Linked DNA regions of Homo sapiens. The protein of the gene in region 1 interacts with the protein of each later gene in a pairwise test. Each region holds a gene or a part of one and is shown on either strand. Other genes may lie near its edges. The genes, in order: TSGA10IP, BICD2, WWOX and RORB.

The links.
Region 2: the proteins of TSGA10IP (region 1) and BICD2 interact in binary tests that used the Homo sapiens proteins (3 or more experiments, as listed by UniProt).
Region 3: the proteins of TSGA10IP (region 1) and WWOX interact in binary tests that used the Homo sapiens proteins (3 or more experiments, as listed by UniProt).
Region 4: the proteins of TSGA10IP (region 1) and RORB interact in binary tests that used the Homo sapiens proteins (3 or more experiments, as listed by UniProt).

What each region holds. Positions count from the first base shown.
Region 1 is NC_000011.10:65,948,480-65,957,179, reverse strand, and holds part of TSGA10IP (testis-specific protein 10-interacting protein), read right to left. Parts: intron 3,614-8,700; coding exon 3,443-3,613; intron 1-3,442.
Region 2 is NC_000009.12:92,719,558-92,728,257, forward strand, and holds part of BICD2 (protein bicaudal D homolog 2), read right to left. Parts: intron 3,252-8,700; coding exon 3,099-3,251; intron 1,199-3,098; coding exon 743-1,198; intron 26-742; coding exon 1-25. UniProt on the Homo sapiens protein: Acts as an adapter protein linking the dynein motor complex to various cargos and converts dynein from a non-processive to a highly processive motor in the presence of dynactin.
Region 3 is NC_000016.10:79,207,863-79,214,076, forward strand, and holds the end of WWOX (WW domain-containing oxidoreductase), read left to right. Parts: exon of another isoform or gene 1-3,745; coding exon 3,746-3,934; 3' UTR 3,935-4,805; downstream 4,806-6,214. UniProt on the Homo sapiens protein: Putative oxidoreductase. Acts as a tumor suppressor and plays a role in apoptosis. Required for normal bone development. May function synergistically with p53/TP53 to control genotoxic stress-induced cell death.
Region 4 is NC_000009.12:74,492,782-74,501,412, reverse strand, and holds the start of RORB (nuclear receptor ROR-beta), read right to left. Parts: upstream 4,079-8,631; 5' UTR 3,437-4,078; coding exon 3,430-3,436; intron 3,172-3,429; exon of another isoform or gene 2,860-3,171; intron 1-2,859. UniProt on the Homo sapiens protein: Nuclear receptor that binds DNA as a monomer to ROR response elements (RORE) containing a single core motif half-site 5'-AGGTCA-3' preceded by a short A-T-rich sequence.

The DNA.
Region 1 (8,700 bases):
ACTTTGTCTCAAAAAAACAATGACAGGAGCCCTGAGCAGAAAGGGAAGTGGTGCCTATGGGTGTCAGCCCCGTCCATCATCTCAGAATGGAAGGAGACACATCCCTCCCTCCCACAGGACAACCTCTTTTGTGCCTGCCCTTCCTAGGCAGGACAGAGTCTCCTGTTCCGCTCAGACAGCGAAGTTCATAGGCTGTAATGGCTGAGAGACTGCATGGGAGATACCTACTTATGCCTTAGCCCTCTCAAATAGAAAGTAAAAGGAGTGAGGTTGAATCACTCTTTTTGCTGCACCTGCCACTTGGAGTTCTGAACCTTACACTTCCTGCCTCACTGTGAAAACAAAACACTTGGCTGGGCGCGGTGGCTCACGCCTGTAATCCCAAAACTCTGGGAGGCCGAGGCAGCCAGATCACTTGAGGTCAGGAGTCTGAGACAGCTGGGGCAATATGGTGAAACCCTGTCTCTACCAAAAATACAAAAAAATTAGCCAGGTGTGGTGGCGCGCACCTGTGGTCCCAGCTACTCAGGTTGCTGAGGCAGGAGAATTGCTTGAGCCCGGGAGATGGAGGTTTCAGTGAACTGAGATCACACCACTGCACTCCAGCCTGGGCAACAGAGCAAGATTGGGAAGGAGAAAGGATCCCCCTAAACATTGGCCCAAGCAGTCCCCCAAAACACACTTGACCTTTCAGAGCCTCTGTTTCCAAATCTGTAAAATTGGGGTGATTAAGACTGAGCCTCGGCCGGGCGCGGTGGCTCACGCCTGTAATCCTAGCACTTTGGGAGGCTGAGGCGGGCGGATCAGCTGAGGTCGGGAGTTCAAGACCAGCCTGACCAACATGGAGAAACCCTGTCTGTACTAAAAATACAAAATTAGCCGGGCGTGGAGGCGCATGCCTGTAATCCCAGCTACTCGGAAGGCTGAGGCAGGAGAATTGCTTGAACCCGGGAGGCAGAGGTTGCGGTGAGCCGAGATCGCGCCATTGCACTCCAGCTTGGGCAACAAGAGCGAAACTCTGTCTCAAAAAAAAAAAAAAAAAAAGACTGAGCCTCAAAGAGTAGGTGATAAGAACCCCGCTGAGCCGTCAGTGGCCTTAAGGCAGGGCAGGACCCTCACCCCACTTGCCACGGACCAAAGGAGACAGGGTGCAGAAAAAGATGCCCTGCGCCCGCTGCACCCAGGAGGTGCTCAAATCAATGGCACTGGTTTTGGTCATATTTATTTGATTTATTTGTGTTACATGTGTCATTGGTTTGGGCTCTTGGGGGAAGGTCCTGGTGCCTTTCGTCTAAAAGCGGAGGATTTGAGTGCTCAGGCAGGGCAGCATCGTGGCTGGAACCCAATTCTGCTGCCCATGCATGACCTTTGACAAATTATTGAAGATCTCTGAGCCTCAGGTTCCTCACCGGTGGGGTTATGCAGGTGGAGATACCAAGGTAGGATAGTAAGGTGAGCGGGCCGTACTGACTTTTCCCCTTGTATGAAGCCCCAGGGGCTCCTTTCGCAGGAGCTCTGCAGCCCCTGTGCCCTCGTGCATCAGCACCTAACTCTTTTTTTTTTTTTTGAAACGGAGTCTTTCTCTGTCACCCAGGCTGGAGTGCAATGGTGCAGTCTCGGCTCACTGCAACCTCCGCCTCCCGGGTTCAAGTGATTCTCCCGCCTCAGCCTCCCAAGTAGCTGGGACTACAGTCGCGCGCCACTACGCCCAGCTAATTTTTGTATATATATTTTTTAGTATAGACGGGGTTTCATTACGTTGGCCAGGCTGGTCTCGAAATCCTGACCTCAGGTGATCCACTTACCTCGGCTTCCCAAAGTGTTGGGATTACAGGTGTGAGCCACGGCGTACAGCCGAGTACCTAACTCTTTTGCAAGATAAGCAGTCTTAGGGGATACCAGATGGCTACAAGTTCCCTCATACCTAGCACAGCCCAGGAAAAAAAAAACAAAAGCCCCTTATTCATAATGTAGCTTCCCCGATCTCCAGCCAATCAGCACCAAAAGCCCAAGAAGCTATTAGCTACAAATTCCTGCCTTGGAGGGAGCTAAGGACTTCTCGGGGTTCCGCATACACAGCTAGGCTCAAGGTTTAGCTTATAGCAACATTTTCCTCGTTTTGATGGTAAAAAAACACACCCCTAGGTAGAGATTGTATATGCTAATGTTACATGTGATGCGTGTTGGAGCATGCAGATGCTGAGCGCATGCGCCCACCACAGGTCCACCTTTGCATACCTGACCTCACCAGTATTTTGTGACTAGGTATAAACAACTTCCATAAAAGGAATTCCTCTTAAGGCACAAGCTGCCGTCTCTCCCTCTGAGCAGTCCTCAGGGTGGGCTTTTTTTTTTTTTTTTGAGATGGAGTTTTTGCTCTGTCGCCCAGGCTGGAGTGTAGTGGCTCAATTTCGGCTCACTGCAACCTCCATCTCCCGGGTTCAAGCAATTCTCCTGCCTCAGCCTCCCGAATAGCTAGGATTACAGGTATGTGCCACCGCACCTGGCTACTTTTTGTATTTTTAGTAGAGATGAGGTTTCACCATGTTGGTCAGGGTGGCCTTTGCTTTGCAATAAACTTTTTCTTTTGTGCGGCCAAGGGAAGAACCTGACCTGGCCCACCAGCAGCAATACTCCCTGCTTCACGGACCTGTTAGGAGTCCAAAAACGTTTGCCCACAAATCTGCTTATTAGGAAAATGGTCACGGCCAGGTGCAGTGTCTCACACCTGTAATCCCAGCACTTTGGGAGGCTGAGGCGGGTGGATCACGAGGTCAGGAGATCGAGACTATCCTGGCTAACACGGTGAAACCCCGTCTCTACTAAAAATACAAAAAAAAAAAAAAATTAGCCGGGCGTGGTGGCGGGCGCCTGTAGTCTCAGCTACTCGGGAGACTGAGGCAGGAGAATGGCGTGAAGCTGGGAGGCGGAGATTGCAGTGAGCCGAGATCGCGCCACTGCACTCCAGCCTGGGCGACAGAGCGAGACTCCGTCTCAAAAAAAAAAAAAAAGGAAAATGGTCACAATATAGGAAGAGAACAAAACGCGACTCTTCAGCTGACTGTGAACAATGGTTGTCTCCCAGAGTGGGGTCACACGGCTGTTCACCTTCTCCAGGCATTATTTCTGTAATCTTTGAAATTTTATAACAAGCATGTCTGGCATTGGAAATCAGAAAATGAAGATTTGAAAGTGTGATCATACATGTAGAATATTTTAACCTTGACCATTCAACAGCTGCAGAGATTGTCATTATTAACTGGGTGGCCTTCGACAGACCCCTTCTCCCCATGCCTCAGCGTCCTTATCTGGAAACGCGGTGAAGTGGCCTGGTTAGCCCCAGGGAAGGCGAGGGCTGGTGCTCCTCGGTCCTGTAGACTGAGACCTGACACGGCCTCCCTGCCCTCTCCCAACCAGGCCTCCCGAAGCCCAGGCTCCCTACCTCAGCTCCTCCAGCTTGCGCTGGGCCGCCCCAGGGCCCCGGCTCCCTCTGGGTGCGTAGGCTGCCAGGCAGTGGGCCACCTGCCGCTGTACATGCTGTGTCCGGGCCCGCCGCAGCTCGGCCTGCTGCCGCTCCTCCTGCCGCTGCCGCTCCCAGGCCTGCAGCAGGCTCCTTGGGTGAGAAAGGGAAGGGGAATGAGAGGTTCACGGGCAGCAGGAGCCTCACGGAGGGCCAGGGGCTGGATAAGGGAATATGGAAGCCTGTGGGGAGGGGCTGCAGTGTCCAGAGCCAGTGTCCTGGGAGTAGGGTTTGTCATGGAAGTCCATGACAGAGACTGCCCTGGAGGCTCAGCCCTCGGTCCCAGCTCAAGGCCTTTCCCTACTCTTTCTAGAAGTCTCCTGCTTCCAGGCCAGGCACGGTGGTTCATGCCTGTAATCCCAGCACTTTGGGAGGTGGAGGCAGGCGGATCACCTGAGGTCAGGAGTTTGAGACCAGCTTGGTCATCATGGTGAAACCCTGTTTCTACTAAAAATGCCAAAATTAGCCAGGCGTGGTGGCATATGCCTGTAATCCCAGCCACTCAGTAGGCTGAGGTGGGAGAATTGTTTGAACCAGGGAAGCAGAGGTTGTAGTGAGCCGAGACCACGCCATTGTACTCCAGCCTGGGCAACAAGAGCAAAACTCCATCTCAAAAAAAAAAAAAAAAAGAAAGAAAGAAAAAAGAAATGAAGGGTGCTTTGGAAGAATTAATATTGTTAAAATGTCCATATTATCCAAAGCAATTTACAGATTCAATGCAAGCCTATCAAAATTCCAATGACATTTTTCACAGAAATAGAAAAAACAATTTTAAATTAATATAGAACCACAAAATACTCCAAACAGCAAAAGCAATCTTGAGCCAAAAAAAAAGGCCAGGCATGGTGGCTCACACCTGTAACCCCAGCACTTTGGGGCTGATGCAGGTGGATCGCTTGAGCCCAGGAGTTTGAGACCAGCTTGAGCAACATGGTATATATACACAATGGTATATATTGTGTATATATTGTGTATAAAAGGTGGTCTATATATACAATGGCATTCTTCAGCCTTAAACCCCATCTGTACTGAACATACAAAAAATTAGCCAGGCATGGTGGACCAGACCTGTAGTCCTAGCTACTCGGGAGGTTAAGGTGGGAGAATCACCTGAGCCCAGGAAGTCAAGACTGCAGTGAGCCATGATTGAGCCACTGCATTCCAGCCTGGGTGACAGATTGAGACTCTGCCACACACACACAGACACATACACACACACACACCACACACACACACACACACAAAAGAAAGCTTAACGACACTTGTCTGGGCAATGGTTTTTTGGCTATGACCCAGAAAGCACAGGCAACAAAAGCTAAAATAGACAAATGAAGTTGCATCAAACTGAAAAGCTTCTGCACAGCAATGGCAACAATCAACAGAGATGACATACAGAATGGGAGAAAATATTTGCAAACCATACATCTGAAAAGGGGTTAATATCCAAAATATGTGAACTCAAGTAACTCAGTAACAAGAAAGCAAATAACTCAAAAAATGGGCAAAGGCCAGGCGCGACGGCTGTTGCCTGAAATCCCAGCACTTTGGGAGGCCAAGGCGGGCAGATCATTTGAGGTCTGGAGTTCGAGACTAGTCTGGCCAACATGGTGAAACCCTGTCTCTACTAAAAAAATACAAAAAAATTAGGCAGACCTCGTGATGTACGTCTGTAATCCCAGCTACTCAGGAGGCTGAGGCAAGAGAATCACTTGAACCTGGGAGGGGGAGGTTGCAGTGAGCCAAGATTATGCCACTGCACTCCATCCTGGGTGACGAAGTGAGGCTCCATCTCAAAAAAAAAAAAAAGGCAAAGAGTCAGGGCATGGTGACTCACACCTGTAATCTCAACACTTTGGGAGGTGGAGGCAGCAGGATCACCTGAAGCCAGGGGTTGAGACCAGCCTGGGCCACATAGCAAGACACCTATCTCTACAAATAAAAAGTTAAAAAATAAATCAGCTGGATGTGGTGGCATGCACCTGTAATCCCAGCTACTCAGGAGGCTGAGGTGAGAGGGTCACTTGTGCCCAGGAATTCAAAGCTGCAGTGAGCTATGATCGTGGCACTGCACTCTAGCCTGGGCGACAGAGCGAGACTCCATCTCAAAATAATAATAATAATAATAATAATAATAATAATAAAATAAGCAAATAACCCAAATAGACATTTCTCAAAAAAAGACATACAAATGTCTTTTTCATCACTAATCACTAATCATCTGGGAAATGCAAAATAAAATGATAATAAGATATCACCTCACGCCTGTTAGAATGACTATTACCAAAATGATGAAAGATAAGGGTTGGTGATGATGTGGAGAAAAGGGAATCTCTGTTTACTGTTGGTGGGAATATAAATTAGTACAGTCATTATAGAAAACAATATCAAGGTTCCCCAAAAAATTACAAGTAGAACTACTATGTGATCCAGCAACCCACTTCTGGGTACATATTCAAAGGAAATGAAATTAGTATGTTGAAGAGGTAGCTGTACTCCTATGTTCATTGCAGGAATATTCACAGTAGCAAAGATATGAGATCAACCTAAGATTCCATCAACAGAAGAATGGATAAAGAAAAGGTGGTATATATACACAATGGCATTCTTCAGCCTTAAAAAGAAGAAAATCCCATCATTTGCAACAACATGCATAAACCTGGAGGACACTATGTTAAGTGAAATAAGCCAGGCACAGGAAAACAAATACCATATAATCTCCCTTATGTGCCAAATCTTAAAAAAGTCAAACTCAGCATAATGGGACCCCATCTCTACCAAAATTTTAAAAATTAGCCAGCAGCCAGGTGTGGTGGCTCACGCCTGTAATCCCAGCACCTTGGGAGGCTGAGGCGGGTGGATCACGAGGTCAGGATAGCGAGACCATCCTGGCTAACACAGTGAAACCCCATCTCTACTAAAAATACAAAAACTTAGCTGGGTGTGGTGGCGGGTGCCTGTAGTCCCAGCTACTCAGGAGGCTGAGGCAGGAGAATGGCGTGAACCCGGGAGGCGGAGCTTGCAGTGAGCTGAGATCGCGCCACTGCACTCCAGCCTGGGCAACAGTGAGACAAGACTCCATCTCAGAAAAAAAAAAAAAAATTAGCCAGGCATGGTGGCTCATGACTGCAGTCCTAGAGCTCAGGAGGCTGAAGTGGGAGGATCACTTGAGCCCTGGAAGTCAAGGATGCAGTGAGCCATGATTGTGCCACTGCACTGCAGCCTGGGCAACACAGCAAGACCCTGTCTCTAAATAAATAAATAAATAAATAAAGTCAAACTCATAGAAGCAGAGAGTAGAATGGTGGTTACCAAGTCCTCACTGGGTTTGTGGGGAGAAGAAGGGAGATGTTGGTCAAAGGATAAGAAATTTCAGTTAGAGAGGAGAAATAAGTTCAAGAGATCTATTGTATGATCTGGTGTCTGTAGTTAAAAGCAATGTATTGTATACTTAAAAATCAATAAAAGAGTAGATTTTAAGTGTTCTCACTACAAAAAAAAAAATCAAGTAAGACCGGGAGTGGTGGCTCACGCCTGTGATCCCCGCACTTTGGGAGGCTGAGGCGGGCAGATCATGAGGTCTGGAGTTCGAAACCAGCCTGGCCAATATGGTGAAACCCCATCTCTATTAAAAATACAAAAATTAGCCAGGTGTGGTGGCAGGCACCGGTAATCCCAGCCATTTGGGATGCTGAGGCATGAGAATTGCTTGAACCCTGGAGACGGAGGTTGCAGTGAACTGAGATCACACCACAGCACTCCAGCCTGGGAACAGAGCAAGACTCTGTCTCAAAAAAAAAAAAAAAAAAAAACCGAGGTAATGCATATGTTAATTAGTTTGATTTAGACCTTCAACAATATAAACATATTTCAAAACCTCATGTTGTACACCATAAATACAATTTTTATTTATCAATTACATAAAATAAATTTTAAAAAAAGAATTGTGGCTGGGCGCAGTGGCTCATGCCTATAATCCCAGCACTTTGGGAGGCCGAGGCGGGCAGATCACGAGGTCAGGAGTTCAAGACCAGCCTGGCCAACATAGTAAAACCCCGTCTGTACTAAAAATACAAAAATTAGCCAGGCGTGGTGGTGGGCTCCTGTAGTCCCAGCTACTTGGGAGGCTGAGGCAGGAGAATCACTTGAACCTGGGAGTCGGAGGTTGCAGTGAGCCAAGACTGTGCCACTGCACTCCAGCCTGGGCAACAGAGTGAGACTCCATCTCAAAAAAAAAAAAAATTGTGGGGTGCTATAAGAATGCTGAATGAACTCTCCCCTGCCCTCACATGCCTCCTGTCACCAGTCACCATGGCCTATTGAACCAGCCTCTAAGTGTCTCTTAAATGGATCCCCTCCCTCCATCCACAGGGCCTCTTGGTTCCTCACCTCAGTGTTGCCAACAGTCTCCTCACAGCCTCCAGTCTCCCCTTCAGCTCCCACTGTCTCCTTTGCTTTAGAAACAGAGGCTCGCTCTGTTGTCCAGACTAAAATTCAGTGATGTCATCATGGCTCACTGCAGCCTTGATCTCCTGGGCTCAAGAGATCCTCCTGACTCAGCCTCTGGAGTAGCTGGGGCTACAGACACTTTCCACCAAGCCAGGCTAATCTTTTTTTTTTCCTTTGTAGAGACAGGGGTCTAGCTATGTTGACCAGGCTGGGTTTTTTGTTCGTTTGTTTGTTCGTTTGAGACAGAGTCTCACTCTGTCACCCAGGCTGGAGTGCAGTGCTGCAATCTCAGCTCACTGCAACCTCCGCCTCCCAGGTTCAAGTGATTCTCATGTCTCAGCCTCCTGAGTAGCTGGGACTCCAGGCACACACCACCATACTTGGATAATTTTTTATATTTTCAGTAGAGACAGGGTTTCGCCATGTTGCCCAGGCTGGTCTCGAACTCTTGAGCTCAGACAATCCACACGCCTTGGCCTCCCAAAGTGCTAGGATTATAGGCGTGAGCCACCACGCCCGGCCCCTTAACTTCTTTTTTAGAGACAGTGTCTCACTCTGTTGCCCATGCTGAATGCAATGGTGGGATCATAGCTCACTGCAGTCTTGATCTCCTGAACTCAAGAGATCCTCCTACCTCAGCCTCCTGAGTAGCTGGGACTACAAGCACGTGTCACCATGCCCAGCTAATTCCAAGTCTTTTAATAGTTATATCCTAAGGGCCCATGAGTAGATAA
Region 2 (8,700 bases), on another chromosome or scaffold:
GCAGGCCCGCCTTTTCCCGCTCCATCTGCAAAGGCACAGGCAGCAGGACACCATGTCAGTTGCTATGGACCCCGAGAGCTTGGAGGACCCCCAAGATGGCCTAGTGACATCCCACCCCATGTCAGGGCAGGCTGTCAGCCCCAGGTTCCTTGGCCATGCTGTCAGTGAGGTGGACAAAGACACACAGGGTGTGGAAAGAATGGAATTCATGCTGGGCCCTCAGAACACTAACCGTCACCAGTAATGGTGGTCACCCTCAACGCAGGCTCTTTCCCCAACCATGCTACAGGGGATCTGGGCTAAGAAAGTGGAGCTCTAGGCTGGCTGGGTGTGTAGTCGGGAATATTAGCACCCTAGCCCTCTGCTTCGGAGGACAGGACTCTGTTGCCTTGGATCAACAGGGATCCATGTCCCAGGGGATGAGCCCAAGCATGACCATGGTGGGCCCCTGACACCTGGCCTGCGTGCAGGGATCACATGTGGGCCAGTGTCTCATCACTTCACCCTGACACCACGTAGTTAACAGGGGAGCAATGTGGGTGCTGCAGTGCCAGGAAACCACTTCTCTGAGACTCCTCTATGTGTGCTCCTGGAGTTCCATTTACCGTAATGATGCAGGAGATAAAATCAACGTAAGGAAAAGGGAAAGTTAACATCAGCAGAGTGTCAGGTAAGCACTGCTCGGGGAGCCCTGCAGACCTGGAGTGGGGACAGCGTGCCGAAGGCCCCACTGCCTGCTCACCTGCATCAGCTGCTGCTTCAGCTTCTGGATCTCAGAGATGTTGAGCTCACTGAGTAGGTCGGAGACGAGGCTGGGGGAGGGCGGTGCGAGGCCCTCCTTCTTGGGCGTGGAGGTCTTGTTGTCCAGTGGCAGCTTGGCCAGGCCGCCGTGCTCAAAGCCATTGACCAGGGCCTCGGCATCGTTGTTGGGCTCGGCAGCATCGTCACTGAACTTGAGGCCATCCAGCGAGACATGCAGGTGGCTGGTGTAGAAGGAGTCATTGATGCTCATGTAGTGTGACAGCTCCTTGCGCAGGCTGTTCTTCTGTTCGCGCTCCGTCTTCAGGGTCTCCAGCGCCTCCTCCAGCTGCCGCTCTGAGATCTCCTTGAGGCGGATGGCATCCTCCAGCTGGCTGTTGAGGTACTCGGTCTCCTCCTCCAGACGCTTGATCTCATGCTTGAGGCCCTCAAACTCCACCTGGGAAGAGAAGTCAACGCTCTTGCATCAATGCAATGTGGAAGCTCCTTTCAGGCCCCATAAATGAAGAAAACACACCAGCACACCAACTCCGGCCACTATGAAGCAAAAGATGAAGCGCCAGGTGAGGTGCCATCCTGGGAAGGGTGGCAGCCCGTCCAGGCCAAGACTGCTTCCTCTGCTCAGAGATGTGGATGCTAAGAAGGTTCCAGGGCATGAGATGCGAATGCAATGAAATGCTCAGCCCAGCCCACCCACCGCTGGGACCAGCAGACACAGCAAGGGGAGCACAAATGTCTGAGGTGGCCCCAAGCCAGGACTGTACGTGTGGAGATGCACCAAGAACAACACACATCCATCCATAGAAGGCTGCCAACCTTGTATTAAGTCATTCACAAATATTACCAAGTGCATGCTGATTAAAAATTCTATAAAGTTATTTAATTAACATTAACAGTTAACTAAATATCTTAAGATACATAAAAATATATTTCAATGTGTGCTATGATCATGACTTCTAATCATAGTTCAAAATGAAGGAACAGAAACTCCCCGCAAGGCAGAACATCTCAACCACTAAACCTCCACATGCACATGACACCCAGACCTGGAGGAGCTCGAAGGTAGGTGGGAAAAGCAACATCAAAGTCTTGTCTACATGAAAATTGTATCTGCAGGTGGGCAAGGAAAAAGCAGATAGAAACTGATGCCTGATGTGGAGGCTCAGAATTTGTGGGCAATTGCTAAAACTATTTCTTATTTTTCTGTAATATTTGGAGAAAAAAATAAGAAACAAACCAGTAACAGGAAGTGCTGAGCACATCTCTGTGGGTCTTGGGTCGGAAGGGACACCCATTACCACATCCAAGGTGTGCTCACAGGAGGTGGGCATGGAGCCCTCAGTCCCAGCACCACAAATGCGGAGGTGAGGAATCCCAGAGAGGGAGAGAGAGTCAGACTCCACTAAGCGCCAACCTGAGGACAGGGTCGCCTCAAGCCTCAGTTTCCCTTCTCCTAAGGCCACCATGCGCTGGGCTCTGCCAACAGCAGCACCAATGACCAAATGGTACTTACAATGTAGACAGTGGCTAAGACTGTTAATGAGCTCGAGCTGTCACAGAAGGACCAGGCTAGGAGCTCTGCATAAACACATGAGCTTCCTCCTCCGGGCATAAATACCACATTCCCTGATGGTGAGACTCAGAGGATTTTGGTGGTAGAGGATTTGAGGAAAGCAAGGAAGACATCCATGGCATTCTGGGGAAAGTTTTGGGAGAGAAAAGACTCCCATTCCCCACCATGCAGGAGTGTGGCTCTTGCAGAGAGAAGAGCAAGTTCAGGCCTTGAGTGGCAGAACAGCAGAGCACATGACAATTTAGTCACATCACAAAGAGAAGGGACCCTCCTTATTCATCTCTGTCACAGGCAGAGACCCTACTCGTCCCTGTCAGGGGTCCCTCTGAGACCCCATTAGAGACAGAGGGGTTCCTGTTCATCCCCGTCACAGACAGAGAGGACCTTCCTTGTCCCTGTCACAGGCAGAGACACAGGAATATTGCAGGCCTCATGGTCAGCACCTGATGGGGGAGTCTCAAAGTCCAATCTGGGGTTTTCTGGTGTAACCTCTTCATTACCTCTCAGATTTTTGTTTTCATTTTTGTTGGCTGGGACACCTCAGCCTGGCCAATGTCAGCAAACACTGCAGCCAGAGTTTCATCTTTTGGAGAGTCTGGGTCCCACCAAGTATACCCCTGCCTCCACAGTGGTAAAGCTGGCCCTGGGCCTCGGGTGTGTGGAATAAGACAGGAACCCCTTCCCAACAGGGAGAGGGGCTGAGCAAGAGGTCCTCAAGGCCCAGTTAACCCACGTGCCACCTCCACCCCACAGGCCCAAGACTCACCTGGTTCTGTCTGAGCACAGACACTTGCTTCTGCAGGCTGATGTTCTCCTCCTCCAGTTCCGAGTAGTCCTGCAGCAGACGAGCTTCCCGGAATTTGTACTCCTTGATGTCATCCCGCAGGCGGCCACGCTGGATCTCCACATTCTGGTTGATCTGTTGGGGGAGAGGGAAAGGCAGGTATGAGCAGCCTCCACAGGGCACGAGAGGGGCTCAGTGCAGCCAGGCACGCCATGGCCAGCCATACAGCCAGAACTCAAGAGCCCTGGCCTGCAGGTGCCAGTGTGACTGCCTGGAGAGGAGAGGGAGCCCAGAGCAGTATGCCAGAGTGCACAGCGGACTGCAGAGGTTCCAGAGTAAATTCCCTCAGCCCTTCTCACCTGGGAACCCGTGACTGCCTGCTCCGACCCTTGGTTTCTTCATCTTTAAATTAAAATGGGGTTAAAAGTAGTTCCTGCCTTCTATTATTGGGCATGTACACAGTAGTGCGCAGGTGGGCATATAAATGGTATAGTGCTCTGGCAAACAGCCTGCAGGTGCTGCAACTGTTAAACACAGAGGGTCTACCCCAGAGAAATGTACACATGCCCACACAGAAACCGGTCCACACATGTTCACAGCAGCAGCGTTCATTTTGCCAAAAGGTGGAAGCAGCCCAAGTGCCCATTGACTGATGAATGAATAAACAAAATGTGGTCTCTCCACACAATGGAATGTTGTTCAGCCACAATAAGGAATGACGTACTGACACATGCTACAACATGAATGACCCGTGAACACATTCTGCTGAGTGAAAGAAGGCCTGTCACGAGAGGCCATGCATTATATGATTCCATTTCCATGAAATATCCAGAATAGGCAAATTCATAGAGACACAAAGTAGGTTAGTGGCTGCCAGGAGCTGGGGAGGGGGATGGGGAGTGACTGAAATGGGTTTTCTTTTTGGAGCAATGAACTGTTCTAAGATTGTGGAATGGGGCACATATATGTGACTATCATAAAATACACTGAGTTGTACACCTTATGTGGGTGAACTATATGAGATGTAAATCACCTGAATAAAGCTGTTAAAAATTAGTTCAGGCTCTAAGTTGCCCATAAGGAGCCAAGAGATGTCATGGGAGAGGCTAGTGCAGGGTTGGGGCAAACAGGATGCAATCAAGACAGAATTTCCAACTTGCTGCCATGTGCCAGGGACCTGGGCCCCTCAGCCGCAGCCCTAGCAACATTCAGGGACGTTTCTTCTTTGTGGTGGGAGCCGGCCTGTACATCATATGTCTAGCAGCTCCCTGACCTCTGGCCACCAGACACGGCTGCCTCCTCCATTGTGACAACTGAAAAATCTCTCCAGACGTTGCCAATGTCCCCCAGGGGCAAAATCATCCCCTTGACAAACTCTCTATCCCCTCCCTGTACTCTGCTGACCCAGCTGCCTCCCTGTGTATCTGCAAAGGCCTGGCTCCCCAGACCATCACCACCCCTGCTCCAAAGCCCTCTTGGACTCTCGGCCAGAAGCCCTGTCCATCTTGCGGGCCCCATAGCTTCGCCCACCTCTCACACTGTTCTCTTGGCTTATGCTATGGTTTCTCCTGGTCACATGTGTGCACTCATCTGAATGGAACATACTTTATAGACAAGATTCCAAGATCCCATGCAAGTACACACAAAACGATCATACTGGCAAAATGAAATAGGACATCCCTCCCAAAACAAAGGAAAAAAGGAATGCAACAGAGAGGGGAGGAGAGTCAACAATATACAGCAAGTACTACTGACAAATGCTTACTATTTACAATGAAGATTACATTTAAAACCTACAGCAAATGGACGCAGACATGGCCCTCTCATTATAAGTGACCCAAGGAAGTGACAGAAAGCTGACACCAAAAGAAACAGAGATACCACACAGGGAGGAAGAGAAGGCCTGGCAAAGCCTTGTACCAGAGGAGAAAGTGAGCGAGGTGCATGCTGGGACGAAGCGGGAGAAAGCAGCACCAGCACAGCCATCACCAGGGCCGGGCCCCACAGTGGCTACACGGGGGGTGGATAGGGAGTGGGCAGGCTCTCCAGCCTCTCTCCTGCTAGTGAGAGTGCAGCACCCCCCAGGAGTGTGCTTAGGGGAGCTGCACAAGCCAAGTCACACCCAGGCTCTCCACACCCCAGCTGGAGACTTGGGTACCTCTCTGCCAGAAAGGTTTGCCCAGTTCCTGCTTTTTCCTTGCTAACTGGCAAGCAAGTGGTCTGCAGCAGGTGTGCAAACATGTGCCACTTGATTCAACGCGGCCACCCAGCCGGCTCCTCAGGCGGAGTGGAAGCTGAGGGGAAGGTCTGAGTCCCACCAACTCTCCCAGGCCTGCCAGTCAAGATCAACAAACCTAGAAGGTGCTCCAGGCAGTGGGAAGTGAGAGCCCAGAAGCTTCCATGTGCCTGGGCAGGGAGATAGTGACATGCCCAACTAAAGACTGAAGCAGAGAGCCTGGCCAGATGCCTCATACCATTAGGGTCCCCCAGAGGCACACACGAGACTGCTGTTCCCTTGGCAGTGCTCATGTGAGTCCTCAGGGTCCTTCATCACCTGGCCCAGGCAAGGTGTACTAGGAGTTCTGTCCTTGCACCACTGCCAAACCCAGAACACAGAGGCACACCCAGGTCAAATGCTGGCCTGGCCATACCATGTCATGGGTGATGATGGCACCATCTCTGCTGATGCTGTAGTAGGACGCAAACACTGTGCTTCCATGCCCACACTACTGGGCGTAGGCAGCCAGGCTCATGTGGCCTGCCACCTAGCACCTCCATCCAGCACACGGCCAATTGCCAAGGGCTCAAACAGGCTGACTGGTCGCCATGGGGTTTAGTTTTCCCTCAAGTAAGCACCTTCTCCCAGTGAGCCTGTCTGATGTCAGCCCAAAGAAGTACAGGGGACAAGCTCTGCTGCGTGTGACTGGGCAGCCCAAATGAAGGAGGTGGGAGCACAGGCCTGTAGCTGACCACCAGGGTCCCATCTCAACTCCCCTTTGTGGGATCCCCACACCTCAGACTGCTCATCAGCAAGCAGGGTGTGACAATTGCCTGTTTCAAGGAGCCACTGTGCAGGGGGTCGGCTGCCCTCTCTCCTGTCCCCACCAGACAACCTCAACACCAGGAAACTCTCATCTCTGCCTTGATGGCCTAGGCCAGCCCCTTCACCCTACTCCTTCTTGGGGCAAATATGAAGAAAGATCTTGGTGTGTGTATGAGACCCAGCTCTGACCCCAGGCCTCCTGTGGCTCTCTGGGCCTCTGATTCCCCATCTGGGAAATGGAGCCACATCCCCACCAAGGCCCAATCCAGGCCAGTCCTCAGAAGCTTACCCACCTCCCAGGGGCCCAGGCAGGAAAGATGCTCTCACTAGCAGGAGAGAAGCTGGAGGGGCTGCCCACATGTAGGGCCCACACATACACAGCGGTTAGAGTCAGGATCTGAGAAGCACCTCACCCCCTACCAGCCAGGACACCTTAGGCACATGATGGAACCTTGCAAACCTCTGTTTCTTCACATCTGACGAGATACCAGTAGGGTCACCAGAAGGACCAGGTCTGAGGCAATCAGAACTGTCCAACACATGCCAAATATGTTTGTTACTGTAAAGCTTCACAGGTCCTCATGGTGTGTTGGGGTGTGGAGGGGGACAGACAACCAGTTGACCCAAGGGAGGAAAAAAGGGGAGGGGCTGTTGTGGGTAGCAGGGTGGTGGGTCAAAGGATACAATGAAGGCTGTTTTATCGTCAAATGTACCCTTTCTGACCCATGGGGTGTGAGCCTTGGGCAGTGACTGGGGAAAGCCACGCTGGGGGTGGGCACAGAGAAGCTTGGCACAGTGGCTCAGACCAGCAGAACAGCAGGCAGCAGAAGACAAGAGCTATGCATGACTGGGACTGGTGGTGGTGAGACAAGGTCAGTCCTAGAGATGCTCCACCCGAACCAGGTACCCAAGGCGAAGACCTGGGATGGTTCCCACAGCTCTGCAGCAACCCAGGGCAGGGACACAGTCATGGGGGACACAGCAGACCCAGGGACCAAGGTGGGGACCCTCAGGAGAGACAGGGAAGGCTGAGGGGTGTGCAGGGAGTCTCAGGATTTCCTCCTGAAGCACAAACAGGAACCACAGAAATCCTCTCTTCCCCACAAGACCTGCAGCATCTTTAACTTGCTGTGCTCATTTCCAGTCTTACCTGAAGCCAGCAGGGTCACCCAGCCCTCTTTGGCCTCTGCCACCAGAGATAGGCCTCTTGGAAGAGAGAAGGGGCAGAATGTGCTGGGCTGGGGAGACAGCACCTGCACACGCTTTTCAGGAATAGACGGGCCAGACAGATGGCAGCTGGGGCAGCCAAGGATACATCTCTCCATACACACAGCCCCTCCTCCCACCGACCAGAGGGCTCCTTGTGAGAGGAAATGAGATCATGTACTGCCGCTTCAGGATCTGAGACTCCCCACCCTGAGTCTAAGCCAAGCTCCTCCCTGGGCCCCTAGGGCCTCAGCGATCTCTGACCCCTCACTCCGCTGCTGACCCCGAGGGCAGCATCCTTCAGTACTGGAATGCTAAGCCAACAGCAGCAGCCCTAATCACTGCATACCCTCAGGGCCTATGCCCTGCTGACCTCCCGTAAGATTATCTGCTGCAGAGGGTGGTGCTCCTGTGTCAGGAACAAGGGTCCATAAGTGCTCCCACAATGTGGGGTGAAAGACCTGTGGGGCATCCTCTACAACGGGCTTCAGAGACTGCCGGTTTACAGATGGGGAAACTGAGGCCAGGACTAAAGATAAGGCCTTGCCCAGGCCCCAAGGCTCAGTGAAAGGCAAAGCCAGTATCAGCCCATTCTCAACCGACCCATGCTCCACTCCTCCAGCCATTCCCAATGAGAACCTGGGGCTGACCCTCAAAGGCCACGGCCAGGAGGACTGCAGCTCACGTGCCAACTTCCAGCTCCACTTGCAGTCCCCAGGGACCATCCCACCTCCATCTTGGTGATGGGGCCTCATCCTTCCTCAGAAGGCACTGGCCCCTCTTGCCCCCAAGACAGTCGTCTCAGCCTCACTTTTGTCCCCACAGCCCACTCCCCGTGTAGCCACCAAACCCAAGCTGGACCCTGCCTCCTTCAGGGCCCCACCCAGGCCTGCAGGACTCTCCTGACACTCCTCCTGCCCTTGGCTCAGCACCACAGTGAACATGCCCCTGCCCCAGGGACAGGCACGGGGTACTGCTCTCCCCTGATATCTGCCACATGCCTTCTAGGAGAATGAGGCTTTGCTCACACTGTTTCCTCAGGTTCCACAGACACCGAGGCCCTGGCAGGGCTCAATTAAAATATGTGCCAGTCAGTGAGAAAAGACACTCAGGTGCTCACTCAACCTTCCCTGAGCCTCCTGTTCAAGCCAGCGAGACTCTCCTCCCACCTGCCCCAGTGGATGGAGACTCCTGGCTCTCCTCCTCCTGCTGGGCTCAAACTACACAGGTTCCAGGCACCACAGCAACCTTCCCAAATCCTGCTTTGGCCACATCGTTCCCCTGGGCTCCCCAGTCCTCCACAACTCCAGGGCCTTAGTGTCAGGGCCATGAGCA
Region 3 (6,214 bases), on another chromosome or scaffold:
GTATTCTGTGCTGACAACTATAAATTGATGGCTAGCAGTTATCAAATGAATGTTGATGAAAAGCAGCTACTTAACATTTTCATCCCAACACCGAGTTTTGGAAGGATGGATAATTTAGATCTGAGGGCCTCAACTATAAATAAACAGCAACTGCTTTCTAAATCCCACCTTTCTGTAGTTGAAGATTGTGCTGCAAATCTGACAGATGATTTTTGAAAGAGAATGATGAATCCTTATTACCAAGATACTCTTAATCCCAAACAAGAGTCCTGGGTAATTTTACATATACTCTCAAGATTGATTGCACAGTTCTCCTCTGGCAGCTCACAAATGTTTGACTAGATCGGAAATGGCATTCGGGCATGATTAAAAAGATTCTTCTGGGCTTCCCAGAAATTCTCAGTCCTGTGTCGTCAACAACCTAACTCATTGCCATTGCTGCGGGATAGACACCTCCCCCGTTTCCCATGATTAGCAACCATATACAACCTACAGGCTTCTGATAAATGATTGATTCTCAAAAAAAAAAAATCGTTTAGGGGAACCCATAGCTCCAGCCAGTGTTTGTATGTCAAGGTATTATTATTTATCACAATGGATCAGTAAGCATTGATGACAACTGGCAAGGTATTGCTTCAGATATTTTATAACGGAGTTGTTAACATTATTTCCTTTAGATGGCTCTTTCATCTTTTCTGCATTATGAACTGATGCCCCAAAAGGTGGTATGAATGAAAGTCATCTGATGGTGATTAAAGTGCTCTTTAAATTTTTTTTTTAATCAGTTTAAGAATGCTTTCTCTTTTATTGGCAGTACCTGCTTGTTTACTATTGAGATTTCACTAATGTGCCTCAGTCTTATTCTGATGATATGTAGGCCGAAAAGCTGGTGAGCCAAAAATGAGAACCTGTTACTAAACTGTCATCACATCTGATCATATTAAGATGTCACTCAGAGGTTGCCATTGGTACGGCTGAAAATTCTCCAAGAGACCAAAGGTGTGGTGTGTATGGGACCAACAAGATATTGTTACTGCTTAATTGTCCAGCAAGGGAGGAAAGTAGAGTGAGTACCCATGAGCACCAAGCATGAATCTGAGAAGGAGAATTTGCCAAAGGTGGACGATTGATTTTTGGAGTAGAGAAGGTCGTCTTTGCTTTCGGGTGCCCCTCCTGTGTACTGTGTTCTACAAAGCCAGAGCCACTTGTGATGGAATTTAGATGGTAAATCACCCCAAGCCTAGTGGCAAAGGAATCAAAGCCATCTCCTGATAAAAAGTTAGGCTTTTCAAAAAGGTATGGCTCTCAGCATTGTAGCCAAATGTAGGTTGGCATGAAATGAAGCCAGTTGTAATTGCCTTTAGATTCCGTGGAAGGAAAAGGTAGGTCCCCAGCTCCTGCAACAATGGCATTCTGAATCAATGGGACTGCAGAATTTCTTAGCAAAAATACCATTCCAGTAATGCAAGAGTGCAACGTGGTATCATTACAGTAGGTCATAGTGGCAAAATATTTTATCAGGTTAGGAAGAATTCTGCTTTTTGCTTTCCCAAACGGACTGCTTTGGTCTTTCCTCACGCTTGGCAGAACAGTGAAAGGCCAGTCTGTCATGACGTTTGAATGCTGAATAGTATAACCATTGTGGCATAGAGGGCGGGAGGCTGGACTTGAAATGGGTGAGCTGGATTCTCCCACCACTCGGGAGTTAATGGCAAGTCACTTGGCCACTCTGGTCGTTTTGGCAGCTGCAAGGTAAAATGAAAATATATGACAGATATCTGGAAGTTGATACAAAACACCATCTCCACCAGAACTCTAAGATTCCAGGCCAAAATAATACTTGGCTTGAGTTAGCTGGATGAGCATCTCAATTCTCCAATTTGTCTTTAGAGGCACTTCTGCTTCCCTTTTCCCCACATGGGATGCAGAAGAGCCAGATAAACCCCTTGAAGTTGTTTAGATAAATGTGCCAGGTGCTAAGCTCAGGGTTATTAGGAATAATAATTCAGTGAAAGGAAATTTGGATGACATGAACTCATTTCCATTAGACTTGAGCCACACAAATCAATGGGAAAAGAAACAGCTGAATCCAGGATAATATCTGGCTATTTGGAGTGGGCATGATAATGGAGGGAGATTGGGGAGGTAACAAACCAGCTACTATTAAGTTCAAGTCATGTCAGTTATTCAAATTCAGGACCAGTGGAACTTGTCCAGTATCATCAAGCAGCCAGTTATTATCAAAACCCAAGTCTTTGTCTCACTCACGGTCCACACCCCGCCCAGAGTCGTATCACTTGACTGCATTTGACCATTCAGTTTTCAGACCAACTCCATTGTTACTAGATATCCTGACACTGAAGAAGCTAAAACCAAACAACAATGACAACAACAAACCCAAGTCTGCCTTATGGCAGATTCTTCACGTCGTAACACCTTCCTTGGGACCCTATTTCTCAGTATGGACCTGACTCTCCCAGGGATCCTAGAATGCAAGCATAGTGATTGCAAACCAGACCATTTGAGGGAAACTCCTCCAGTAAGCACCCTGCATGGTCACAATGTAAACCCTGCAGGGGCAGAAAAATGATAAGCTTTGGGTCGGGTCGGAAAGCCATTTCCCCCACAATCAAAGTTCCTTAGTGTTTTCCTTGTGGGGGCGAGCTTATCTTCAGTTACCTTTTCCGGTCCTCTCTTGCAACCCCTCTCCCTCTCATCAGCTGAAAATTAGTGGATGCAGCTAGGGCTCTGAAACACATAAATAATCATAAGATGCCAGATAAACTGTATTGGTTTTAAATTAGAGACGTGCCGACCATGTCTCCCTCTGAACAGCAGCCTATTATTTTTAATTATGGCTTGCAAAGCAAAGTGATTTCTTGCCCTCTTTATAGCATCCCTGACAGTATTCTGTCAGTTTGGATGATATGATGCCTCATCACTGCACACGTCCCTAGCCACAGCCGCAACTGTTACTCAAAAGGTGAATGAAAGTGATCAGCTGCACTCTTTGCAACTTACATTTTGAAGTGGGCTGGGAGGAAATGTACCCCCTTACCTGTGGTCCCATTGTAAATCTGGGTCAAATATGACATTTAGAAAAAGGTTTTCATGGGATCTGGATGAATTAATGTGTTATGTGTTTGTGCTAAGTATGAATGTATGGTGAGGAGTGTGTGTGTGTGTGTGTGTGTGCATTAAATGTTTTAACACAACATTGCCAACCCTTCCCCTAGCAGCACCGTGGGCAAAGCATAAAGGGATGATCTGGCAGCAGCCCCACTTGGGTTTTCTACCTGATGGACCACAATTAAGAGTGGTTGGTTTGTCAGACAGAAGGTTCTACAAACGATTTGGTATCGAATTACATTATACATGGAGAAGTTGAGGGGTTGGATGAATTTGTTCTTGCACGTTCAGAAGGATACCATCTTTTTCTCTGTGTGGAAGAGGCGCCTGCCACGACGTATTGATATGTGTATTTATTTTCCAAGCCTGTCCCTGTATGAGGTGTCAAAAGTTACACCAGCTTTACAAGCGGAGTTTATGAACTCGTTTTTCCAGGATAGTCACATTATACTTTTTACAGTCATGTGCTTTCAGCCCAGTACCCTTTGCTATGCCAAGATCCAGCTGAAACTGAACCAGGTGGGGGAGGCCTGCTAATGCCCAGGCAGTCGAAATGACGCCATCTCATCACTCCTTTTCTTAAAATTTTTTTTTGTCTTTCTTCTTGGATTTCCAGCAACAGGGAGCTGCCACCACCGTGTACTGTGCTGCTGTCCCAGAACTGGAGGGTCTGGGAGGGATGTACTTCAACAACTGCTGCCGCTGCATGCCCTCACCAGAAGCTCAGAGCGAAGAGACGGCCCGGACCCTGTGGGCGCTCAGCGAGAGGCTGATCCAAGAACGGCTTGGCAGCCAGTCCGGCTAAGTGGAGCTCAGAGCGGATGGGCACACACACCCGCCCTGTGTGTGTCCCCTCACGCAAGTGCCAGGGCTGGGCCCCTTCCAAATGTCCCTCCAACACAGATCCGCAAGAGTAAAGGAAATAAGAGCAGTCACAACAGAGTGAAAAATCTTAAGTACCAATGGGAAGCAGGGAATTCCTGGGGTAAAGTATCACTTTTCTGGGGCTGGGCTAGGCATAGGTCTCTTTGCTTTCTGGTGGTGGCCTGTTTGAAAGTAAAAACCTGCTTGGTGTGTAGGTTCCGTATCTCCCTGGAGAAGCACCAGCAATTCTCTTTCTTTTACTGTTATAGAATAGCCTGAGGTCCCCTCGTCCCATCCAGCTACCACCACGGCCACCACTGCAGCCGGGGGCTGGCCTTCTCCTACTTAGGGAAGAAAAAGCAAGTGTTCACTGCTCCTTGCTGCATTGATCCAGGAGATAATTGTTTCATTCATCCTGACCAAGACTGAGCCAGCTTAGCAACTGCTGGGGAGACAAATCTCAGAACCTTGTCCCAGCCAGTGAGGATGACAGTGACACCCAGAGGGAGTAGAATACGCAGAACTACCAGGTGGCAAAGTACTTGTCATAGACTCCTTTGCTAATGCTATGCAAAAAATTCTTTAGAGATTATAACAAATTTTTCAAATCATTCCTTAGATACCTTGAAAGGCAGGAAGGGAAGCGTATATACTTAAGAATACACAGGATATTTTGGGGGGCAGAGAATAAAACGTTAGTTAATCCCTTTGTCTGTCAATCACAGTCTCAGTTCTCTTGCTTTCACATTGTACTTAAACCTCCTGCTGTGCCTCGCATCCTATGCTTAATAAAAGAACATGCTTGAATATCATCACCTGAAGTTTGTATTGTTTCTTTAAATGTTTGTTTCAGTTTGTTTTTGTTTTTCATTTTTTAGAAAAGAAATCTAGAGGAAAAATAAAGCGCTTCTAATAAAGCGCTTCTCGTAGATGCCAGGAAAACACGATTCTTGTTTCTTCTCTGAGTGAGTTTGTGTTTTGTTTTTGTGCTTTGTGGCTGTCCGTGGGCCAAGTTGTCTCACGCGATTAGCATGCCAGCATATTTTCTGTTAAAGAAAGAAAAAAGAAAAATGACTATTGTTTCATTTCACCTTAAGATGTTTTGTTATTACTTACTTACAGTGAGTTATTTTAGTCCTCAATGGTCTGCTCCCCTGCAATTAGCAAGTACTTAGTGATTAGCGGGTATCTCTATGTTTGAGAATGGGAGCTGTGCAGAAGCTCTTATCTGCGCATCCCATCTCATGGACACCATGATTTCCAGCCCGTTCCAGCAAGCACATGAGAAAGTCCACTCTGGCAAGACGGAGAAAATGCTTCTGCTGAAATACCAGGAAGGTGTGGAGGCTGGGTGTCATTGTTCCCCCTCCTGATCATGGCAGCTTCAGGCCAGACAATGTCTTGAACTTCTGTGCCTCTGCATCTGTGGTGCAGAGCAGTCGAACAAACAAACACCATTGCCCTCCAGTGGCCCATAGCCTTGCCACATCCTCCCATCTGGCTATAGTCTTCCTTACGTAATCCTTATTATCACAGGACCTTTGAAACTATGAATCAGATAATGTCACTTTTCAGACATTATTGTCATTTGCAAAAGCAGCCGTCAGAACTCCACTCTCAGAATCTACACCTGGAGGGGATCACCCCTCCCATATGACCTCTGACTTTGGCCATGTGACTGGCCTTGGCCAATTTGGAAAGTGCTTTGCACTGGGGCTTGCCTTTCCTTGTTGATCTTTGGAACCCTGCAACTTCCATCATAGGGAACGGCTCCTGGGCTAGCCTGCTGGATGATGAGAGACACGTAGTCACTCCCAGAACCGGCATCCAGCAGTTAGTTAGTTAGACATGTAAGTGAGGCCATCCCAGACTATCCAGCCCCAGCTGTGCCAATTCAGAGGAGAAGAAACTGCACATTTCACTCACAGCAATGCAAAAGATAGTAAAAGTTTATTTTAAGCCACTAAGTTTCAGGATTACATGTTACTCAGCAAAAGCTAACTGATACAGCTTCTCAGCTCACTAAGGTTAATTTTTTTCTACCCTACTTCTCTTATAATTTGGTCTCCAGCTACCTCTCTAATCTCAACTTCCAGCACTTTATCCACTAGAAGCCACTCTAGTCTTCCTCTGTTCCTCGAACATGCCAAGCACACTCCCAACTCAAGGGGTGCATATTTGCTGTTTCCTCTGCTGAAATGCTTTCCTTCCAGAAACCAGC
Region 4 (8,631 bases), on another chromosome or scaffold:
ACTTGTTTAGGTAATCTAAAGGCCCTGCCAGCAGGACATTCAGAGCTCCATACTTCTGAAGGGCTGCCATACCTCTGAGAGCAAGAAGCCTCTTTTCTAAAGTTTAGCACTTGGCAAAAATTAACTACCTGCAAATAATAGAGGAAAACTAGACTTTAAAAAAGCCAAACCCAATCCTTGTTTATAGCAAGTATAAAACCAGATTTCTAATCCGCCCCAGCGACAATCACCTATTGATTGCGACGACATCTGTGCCCCTGTTTTTGGAAGCAGGGTTTTCCGTGGAGGCAGGACTGAAAAATCCGACCATTTCCGCGCCCCTGTGTAATAAACAGCCCACAGATCTTTCAAGAAGGAACCCTGAAACCCACACCTCGGCTCACTTCTTTCTCACCTAGTGATGGGCCCAATTAAAGGTCCTCCCTTTCGCCTTCAGAAGTTATTCCTTTCAGTAATGAAATCTACGGAGAAGCCTCTCTAGAACTTCTGTGGTACCCTCTCACAGACAAAGGATGAAAGGCTTTGTGCGCCACCAAATACAACCTCCTCCGCCCCAGGCTAGAGTAAGCAACTGCGCTGTGTCCGGGACTCAGTTCAGCCGTGGGGCAGGACAAGGACGTCAAAGATCAGGGACTCTTAACCCCTTTCTTTCCCCGTAGCTTCCCTGGGGATAGTCTCTTAAATGCCCTAGGCGGGGGAGGAGTAGGGGGTGGGAATAGGTTTGCCGGATTGGCCCCGAGGGAGACCACTGAATCCCAGATCACCTTTCCGTCGCTCAAAGCGCCCTGATTCAGGACAGTTGTCAGCTGCAAACTGTGGAGCCCAGGCGCTAACTAGGACCACCTGGGAATGGAAAGCGCGCGCGTGTGGATGAGGGAAATGCAGTGGGCCCACCGTAAAGCCCAGGTCAAAAATGGCCCCTCTCCCAACATAGGGTGCTTAGTAGCCCTGCACGAGCGAAAGCTGATTCTTTTCCCGCTTTCACTTCTCAAGTTCACTCTCAAGTTCAACTCCCAACTCCACAAGACGTCAGAGTAGCCTGGATCTTTTCTCAATCCCATTCTTACGGAACAGCCTCTCATACTGTGGTAGGGCACTGTCCGGGGAAAATATGAAGAGGTAGTAAGGAAAGACACTAGGGGTCAGGAAAGGGCAACCAGGAATGGCGATAGAGTGACCTGGTCATCTTTTAAGCTTACATTTTCTCCAGCGCATTCCCCTAAGGCCGCCTGAGAGCTGCCTCAAGTTAGAAGTTGTAAGGGGTCCTAGGGCGCCTGGCGAGGCTGGCGCCCTCTTTGATAGGTCTGTGGGCTTAAACTGGTTTTCTCAAGGTGAGCATGAGGACCAGCGCCTGGCTTTCAATCCTTCCAGCTTCTGGAGTCCTCAAAGCGACCGCCGTGGCGAACCAGGACAGTCATCTGCAAACTGCTCCTTCAGGAGATGCTAGATCAAGCTACAACCCATCCCCACCCCGCGCCGCACTCCTTCTACGATGTAAGGAGTGAGCGGATTTTATGCCCTAGGTCCTAGTGCTGGGTCCGAGCTGAGGTGGCGCATAGTTTACGACGTTCAGAAAGTATGAACCCAGCCACAGGGGGAAAGTTAGAAGGGAAGAAGGGGAGGGACGAACTGGCAGCTCTGGACTGGGACGGGGGAAACCGAAAGAATGGATGGGATGGTGAGATGGGCTAGAAAAAGAAAAACAAAAGACCGGGCGTCTCTTACTAAGCCAAGGTTCTCTACTCTCCAATTGCCCAAGTATAGTTTCTTGAAAGAATTTAGACAGTGGAGCGTGTAACCAACCCCCAACCGGGACAATCAGCTGGAGCCAGCGCGCACACACACGGGTGCCCCACTCCCAGCGAGCCGGCCAATCAAGACCATCCCATCAGGACGTCCTTGTTTCTTATCTACAGTCAACCCCCTCCCCCATGGACAGTCTCTCTCCGTTCCTTCTTCTCCTTCCCTTTCCTGACACATCCCAGCGTCCAGCCAGCAAACCCTTGAGTCCAGGCTCGGGGCTCACCGGGTGCGGGAGGGAGTGGGAGTGAGACCCGCTGCCTCCTGGGGTGCTCCTCTAGGGGCGTAGGGGGACTGGGTGGGAGAGGATCACTTTCAGTGGAAGGAGGAGACCAGTGATTGCATCCCAACTCTCCCAAGTGCTCCCTGCCTAGACCACCTCTCTCCGGGTCTGGGATGCAAGAAGGTCTGGAGCTGGCCGTTACTAACTTTCTGTTGTCAAGACCCAGGGGTACGTGCGAAGGATAGAGAAGAGCCCCCGATTAACCGCTGTGTGGCCAGGAAGAGGGACTGGGAGTGGGGGTGGGTGCCCAGAGCTTGCACAGATCCCCATGTCAAGCGGACACCCGCCTGGCTCTTCAGTAAAAGAGTGAAGAAAGGCCGAGCACAGCGCGAAGGAAACCTGAGGTCTCCGGCAAGGCAGGAGAGGAGACCAAGTGACTCCCCGAAACCCACCCTCCAGCCCTTCGAGAGGCCCAGAGTCCAGCCGGAGCAAGCGTAACGCTACAGTCCCTGGCGCGCATCCCTGCAGACCCCAGCTCGCCCCGGGGTCCCGCCGCCGCCGCCGCCACCGCCTGCGACTGCGAGGGTCCTGGCCCGAGGGTGCACCAGCACCTCCTTCCACTACCGGCCCTTTATCTGACAAAAGAGCCGGAGCCCATGACTCTCCGACTGTGAGCAGTGTGGCCTTTCCAAGCCTCCAGAACTTTCTCATTACAACTTTTCCGGGGTCGCACTACTCCCTGGGCCGCGCGGGCTCGGGCACGAGGACCTGGCCAGGGCGCAGCGCCGGCACGAAGGCGCGCGCCGCAGAACTGTTTCCTCAGCCGCGTGCCGGGGAACTAACTGTTTCCTCAGCCGCGTCCAGCCTCGCAGCACTGCTCTTCTGCTTGCTACTCCAGCGAAGGGACATGCCTGCTGGCCAGGACGCTTAGTGGGCCTCGTAACCTGGCGAGTGTGTGCCCGCGCGTGTCCACCCTGCCCCCGGCCGGTGCGCCCCGCGCGCCCAAACCCGGCCGGCGACCACTGCGCGCCGGGCGCTTCCAAACTGCTCCTGTCCAGAGGCATCCCTCTTTCGGCTTTCTCCATCCCGCGTCCGCTTCCGCACCCGAGAGCGACAAGCAAAAAAGATTCAGTGCAACTCAAGGACTGGTAAGAACCAACTAGCCTGTCTCCCCTCTCCAAAAAAGCGCCCTCCCGCGTCCCTCCAGAACTCCCGAAAGACATCAACACCTTCCCGCAACTTTCTACGCCCAGGCCATTTGCAGCCCCACCTGCGAGAGCGAATTCGGGGAACTGCGCCTGGGCAACCTCTTTCCCTTTCTGCTGGGTGCCCTCCCCTCCCCCATCTCCCCGTCTGGCTGGAGTTGGCCGGACTCGGGGAGCCTCGGTGCCCGCAGACTCGCTTACCTCGCATGGTGTGGCCGCTCTCCCGCTCCGCGTAGTCATGAAGCTGCTCCCAGCCCGAACCCCGGAGAGCCCAAAAATCCCGCTCAGCACGAGTGAAGAAGGTGGTCGGCGAAGAGCTGCTCTGCCGAGAAAACCATCCCTTTAGGCGGACGCCGTGGCTGCAGGGTGACGTTTGCCGCCGCCGCCGCTATGTTAACAGTTTTGATGTTGGTGGTGACTGTTTTGATGATTGTTTGTTTGTTTGTTTGTTTTCAGGAAGGGTGAAAAAAAAATGTTCTGGCTGTCTGGTGCCTGGGTTTTGTTTTGGTTTTGTTTTTCTTTTTCTTTCTCTCCAATGTGCTTGCTTTTTAAAAAATGCCACCGCCTCCGGCTCAGAAGATTTCTTTTGTGATCACTTGGACTGAGGAGGAGGAGGAAGGGCAGCAGCAGGAGGAGGAGTTGGTGGTGGTTTTGTTAGTTACAAAGAAGAGGGAGAAGGAACAAGGGGGAAAAAAGGAAACAGAAAGAAAAGAAAGAAAGGCGGTGTGGATGGCAGAGCATGTGCGTTTTCACATGACATCTGTGCCTGTTAGCGGATCCACAATGTGAATTTTCACTGTTCAGTTACAGGGAGGAAGGGAGCAGCGAGAGAGAAAGAGAGGGGAGAGATGGAGAGAGAGCGCTGAGAGGGGCTTATACGCGAGGGCGGGCTTGGCCGCGACTTCCAGGCCCCGCCTGCTGTCAGCGCAGCCGCCAATCAGAGCCCAGCAGCGCCTGGAGAGGCTGGGACCGCGGGGAGGGGACGTGGTGGAGGCGGGGGGTGGGGCGGGGGCTGGGGACCAGGGAGTCCGAGGTGGCCGGGGCTGCGACGGGGAATTCGAGACTGTCCGAACTGGGCAGAGAAGAAGGGCCGACCGGGAGAGTCGGGCAGATCCGCAGGTGACAGGCACTTCCGACTCCAGCAGAGAAGGGGACACTGATCACGGAAAACCTTCGGAGGCAAGAGACGCGGGGCTCCCCGGGTTTCACGTTCGGTCCCTGTCTCGCAACCCCCGCGGGCCCGGCAGAGTTAGTTTTGAATTTATGGCAGCGCTTTGCCGAGCGCTATTTGGGTAAACTTCGGTCTCCGGCGGGGGTTTCCGTGGGCAGGTGGTTTGGGTGTTGGTGGTAGAATAATGCAAACCCACTTTCATCACTTTTAGCACAACTAAAATGCAGTCCCATGGAAGTAGCTGTCCCCTTCCTTTAAAAACGTCCGTCAGATGCTCCCTGACCCTCTTCTAAAAAAAAAAAAAAAAGAAAGAAAGAAAGAAAAAAACGTGTATATGTTCTTTTGTCTGGGAAATTGATTTTTATTAGCATTTGGAGACTCCCCTGGCGATGGACTACAGGACTGAAGGAGAACAGCTCAAATTGGCGGTGTAGCCACCTTACTAATTCAAGAGAAATGGCTGTTGCTAGAAGGTGTGATTGCAGGGTGCTCTTTAGAAAGGTTTTAGAAGGAAGACATTGTTAACTTTAGTTAGAGGCGATTGGTAACTGAACATAGATAAACTTACTTGTATTCCTTAGGTGAAAATTGTCATCTATGACCATTTATTTGTATTTTGATAAAAATCTAATACATATATCCAAACTGTTCCTTTGCAAGTTTTTCCAACTCAGTTGACAAAATAAGCATATAGATGATTACATCTACTTCCTTCCCAATAGTAGGGAACTTCTTAAATACTTGAGTTAATTGAACACCCTAAAAGATTGGGAGGTGAAAATATTTGCCTCATTCACTCAGTCTTGAGGCTGGGAGATGTCTACTCATTAGCATACCTGTTGGCACAGCAGGCCTCATCATCATTTAAGTATCCAAATAATTTGATTTTTGACTGGTATTTATTCATGATATGTCATGTAACACAAAGTACAATGTAGAATTGGCAGTTATTTAGTTAATTAGGTCGCTCTACACTGCCAAGTAGTTTTTTCCTTCCTGATTAAATGAAAAATGAATTATCTGCTGAATTTTCACCAGTATTAAATTGACGTAGCCCTGCTATATGCCATCCCATTTGCAAACCAATGTGTAATTTAGGAAAATTTTAGTATTAAGAGTGAAAGTTGATTGAGTCATTAATTAAATGAAATGAACAAAAGGAAGTTACTGTTTAGAATAGTTATTCCTTTATAAATATCTTTCTCCTAGATTTGTAATTGACACAGTAGTTAATCTTTTAAGATAATATTTAAGGCTCCCTGGTTTTATCATTTTTAATCAAGTAAAATATATTCATCATAACTATGTTAAAGCTGTACAAAGTTATGCCTAATTTAGTTGCTTCATTAAAAATTACTGAATATAAAATAGTCAAGAAACAAATTGTGACTATATCATTTTAATTTTGTTGCTTCAAGCAGAGACACAAGAATATTGAAAATTCCAAAGGCTTTGTAAACATTGTCTAATTATTATTGTTGTTGTTATCATTTTAGATTTCTATTTCTCTTTAGAGTGAACAGGAATTTCAAAATCCAAAAATTTAAACATTTATGTAATTTTAACTTTCTAAACATTTATTGAATTCTGAATTTTTTTTTAATGCTGCAATATCTGTAATCCTTGAAAAAGGTAGTCAACACGTGTATAAAAAGTATTTACCCCCCCATACATTTTTATATTCTCTTTATTTTGTGGTTTCAGCAAGGCATAATTTTGCTTAGAACATATTTCTTAATTCCTTCTGAGTATTTTTGGAGAAATTATTAATTAGAAGACTATATTATTTCATTTTTCAAAACTATGTATATAATCTCTATATATGGTGATACAAAAGTATGTATTTTCTCTTTAAATGCTAATCATTGGTTATAATGTGGCGGCCTGGGACATTTTGGATCTTTCTAAAAATTTAAAAACTGGTTTGTTGAATATTTCTAATAATTTTCACATTTATTTCACTGAATGGAGCCCATTTATTTAAAATAAATATTAAGAATTTGAATGAAAGAAGTCAGTATTTTCTAAGAACTCACAAAGCACATATATATAATCTGATGGTTTTGTAACCTATCTGCCAGCAAATAATCATATTTCAAGTGGCATAATAATAATACATTACTGTAATGTCCTAGCTCATATGAAGTACGGTATCAGTAATTTTATTTGAATGATTATGTCTGGTTTCCTATAAGCTTGAAACTCTGCTTTTCACTCTGGGCCTGAAGGATTTTCTAAGTTGACAGTTGCATGTTGATTAATTTAAATGACAATCAGTCACATAGCACTGTCCTCAATCTCAAGAATTGACATCAGATTCCACTTAGGCTTGCCTGCTTACCTGTTTTTCTGACACATTAGCACCCCTCAGGTTGAGCTGTACCACAGAATAGGAATGACAACAAATATCCTGAAAGAGGCAAAGTTTTAATATAAGCCAACCAGGTAGGGTGACCATGGCATTTAGGATTATTTCAATCCTAAAAGGCTTAAACAGGAAGTCATAGTTCATGTTATTCTGAGCTGATAAGTCAGAATATTCACTGGTCAGGGAATATTTTAAATAATTAAGACTCTTGAATGGACATTAGCAATACTGATAACAATGTTACTTTTAGGAATGACTGAAAGATTGGTTATGTTTAACTCTATTTAGGGAGCTGTGTGGCTGTGAAAATTGGGAAAGAGATATAAAGCTGCTATTAAATATTAGAAAAGCCAGAAAAATGTAAGAACTTTTAACATTCAAACCTTTTACAAGTGGGAAGGGAAGTACTGAGTTCCCTGTTGCTGAAGGCATCCAAAAAAGGGTTGAATGAAAGGTTCTGTTAGAGATGCTCTAGTATACAGATTTCTATACTAGGGTAGAAATTGTCTAGATTACCTCCAAGATCCTCTGTAGCTCTAAGTGTACAGTTGGCCTTTATGTCCATGGGTTCCACAACTGTGGATTCAACCAAGAGCAGAGCAAAAATAAATTGTGTCTGTACTGAACATGTACAGATATTTTTCTTGTCATTGTTCCCTAAACAATACAGTATAATAATTATTTATATAGTGTTGACATTGGCATTATAAGTAATCTAGAGATGATGCAAAGTATATAGGAAGATGTGCATAGGTTACATGCAAATACTACACACCATTTTATAGCAGAAACTTGAATATCTGTGGGTTTTGGTATCGGTGGGAGGTCCTGGAACCAATCCCCCGTGCATACCAAGGGATGCCTGCATTCACATGGACTAAAGGTTGCTACCACTGCCCCAGCAGGCATCAGAGCCACATTTCCTACCTGAGAATGCAAAATTCATGACAACAGGAGCCAGGATTTCCCTAGAGTTTGTAAGAGCTCCTGGTACTTTATGGGTGCTTGATCATTATTGGTGGAGTGAATGCTTTCTAACCTTTCAGCCACTGAATATGAATCACAAATGGAGTGAAGACCTGAATAAGATCCTTCTTTCTCAGTTTCTATTGAATGGGAAGAGGAGAGTGGGGAGAATCTGCATTTTAAACTCTCCTAATTTGGGGAAGCAAAAAATAATGGTTGAGATTGGTTATATAGTCATAAAAGGAAGCTAAAATTTAGTTATTTTCATATTTATTACTATTCTTAATTAATTTATTTATTCTTTGAAAGGAAGTCTCGCTGGAGGCTGGAGTGCAGTGGCACAGTCTCAGCTCACTGCAGCCTCTACCTCTTGGGTTCAAGTGATTCTCCTGCCTCAGCCTCCTGAGTAGCTGGGATTACAGGTGACCACCACCATGCTTGGCTAATTTTTGTATTTTAGTAGAGACGGGGTTTCACCATGTTGGCCACACTGTTCTCAAACTCCTGACCTCAAGTGATCTGCCTGCCTCAGCCTCCGAAAGTGCTGAGATGACAGACGTGAGCCACCACACCCAGCCCTATTCTCAATTTTATTCCCAGGTACTGAGTCTTCTTCATAATCTTTGAGTTCTTTAAGTTCTGCTTCATTTTAAAGTGTAGATGCAAGTTCAATAAGTTTTCAAAATAAAAAAAAGAAAGCAAATATTAAAATAGAGCATGTAATTTTGAAATAAATTGGAAAAGGTGATAAGGGCCAAAGCATGAATTAACCCCAGTATGTGGGAGAGGTAAGGCTAGCTTTGGAACAAAGACAAAACATACAGGTCAGAAAAAACAAGAGCCAACATTTATTGGATGAATCACATGATTTCTCAACCTATCTAATTTCTATTTCTTA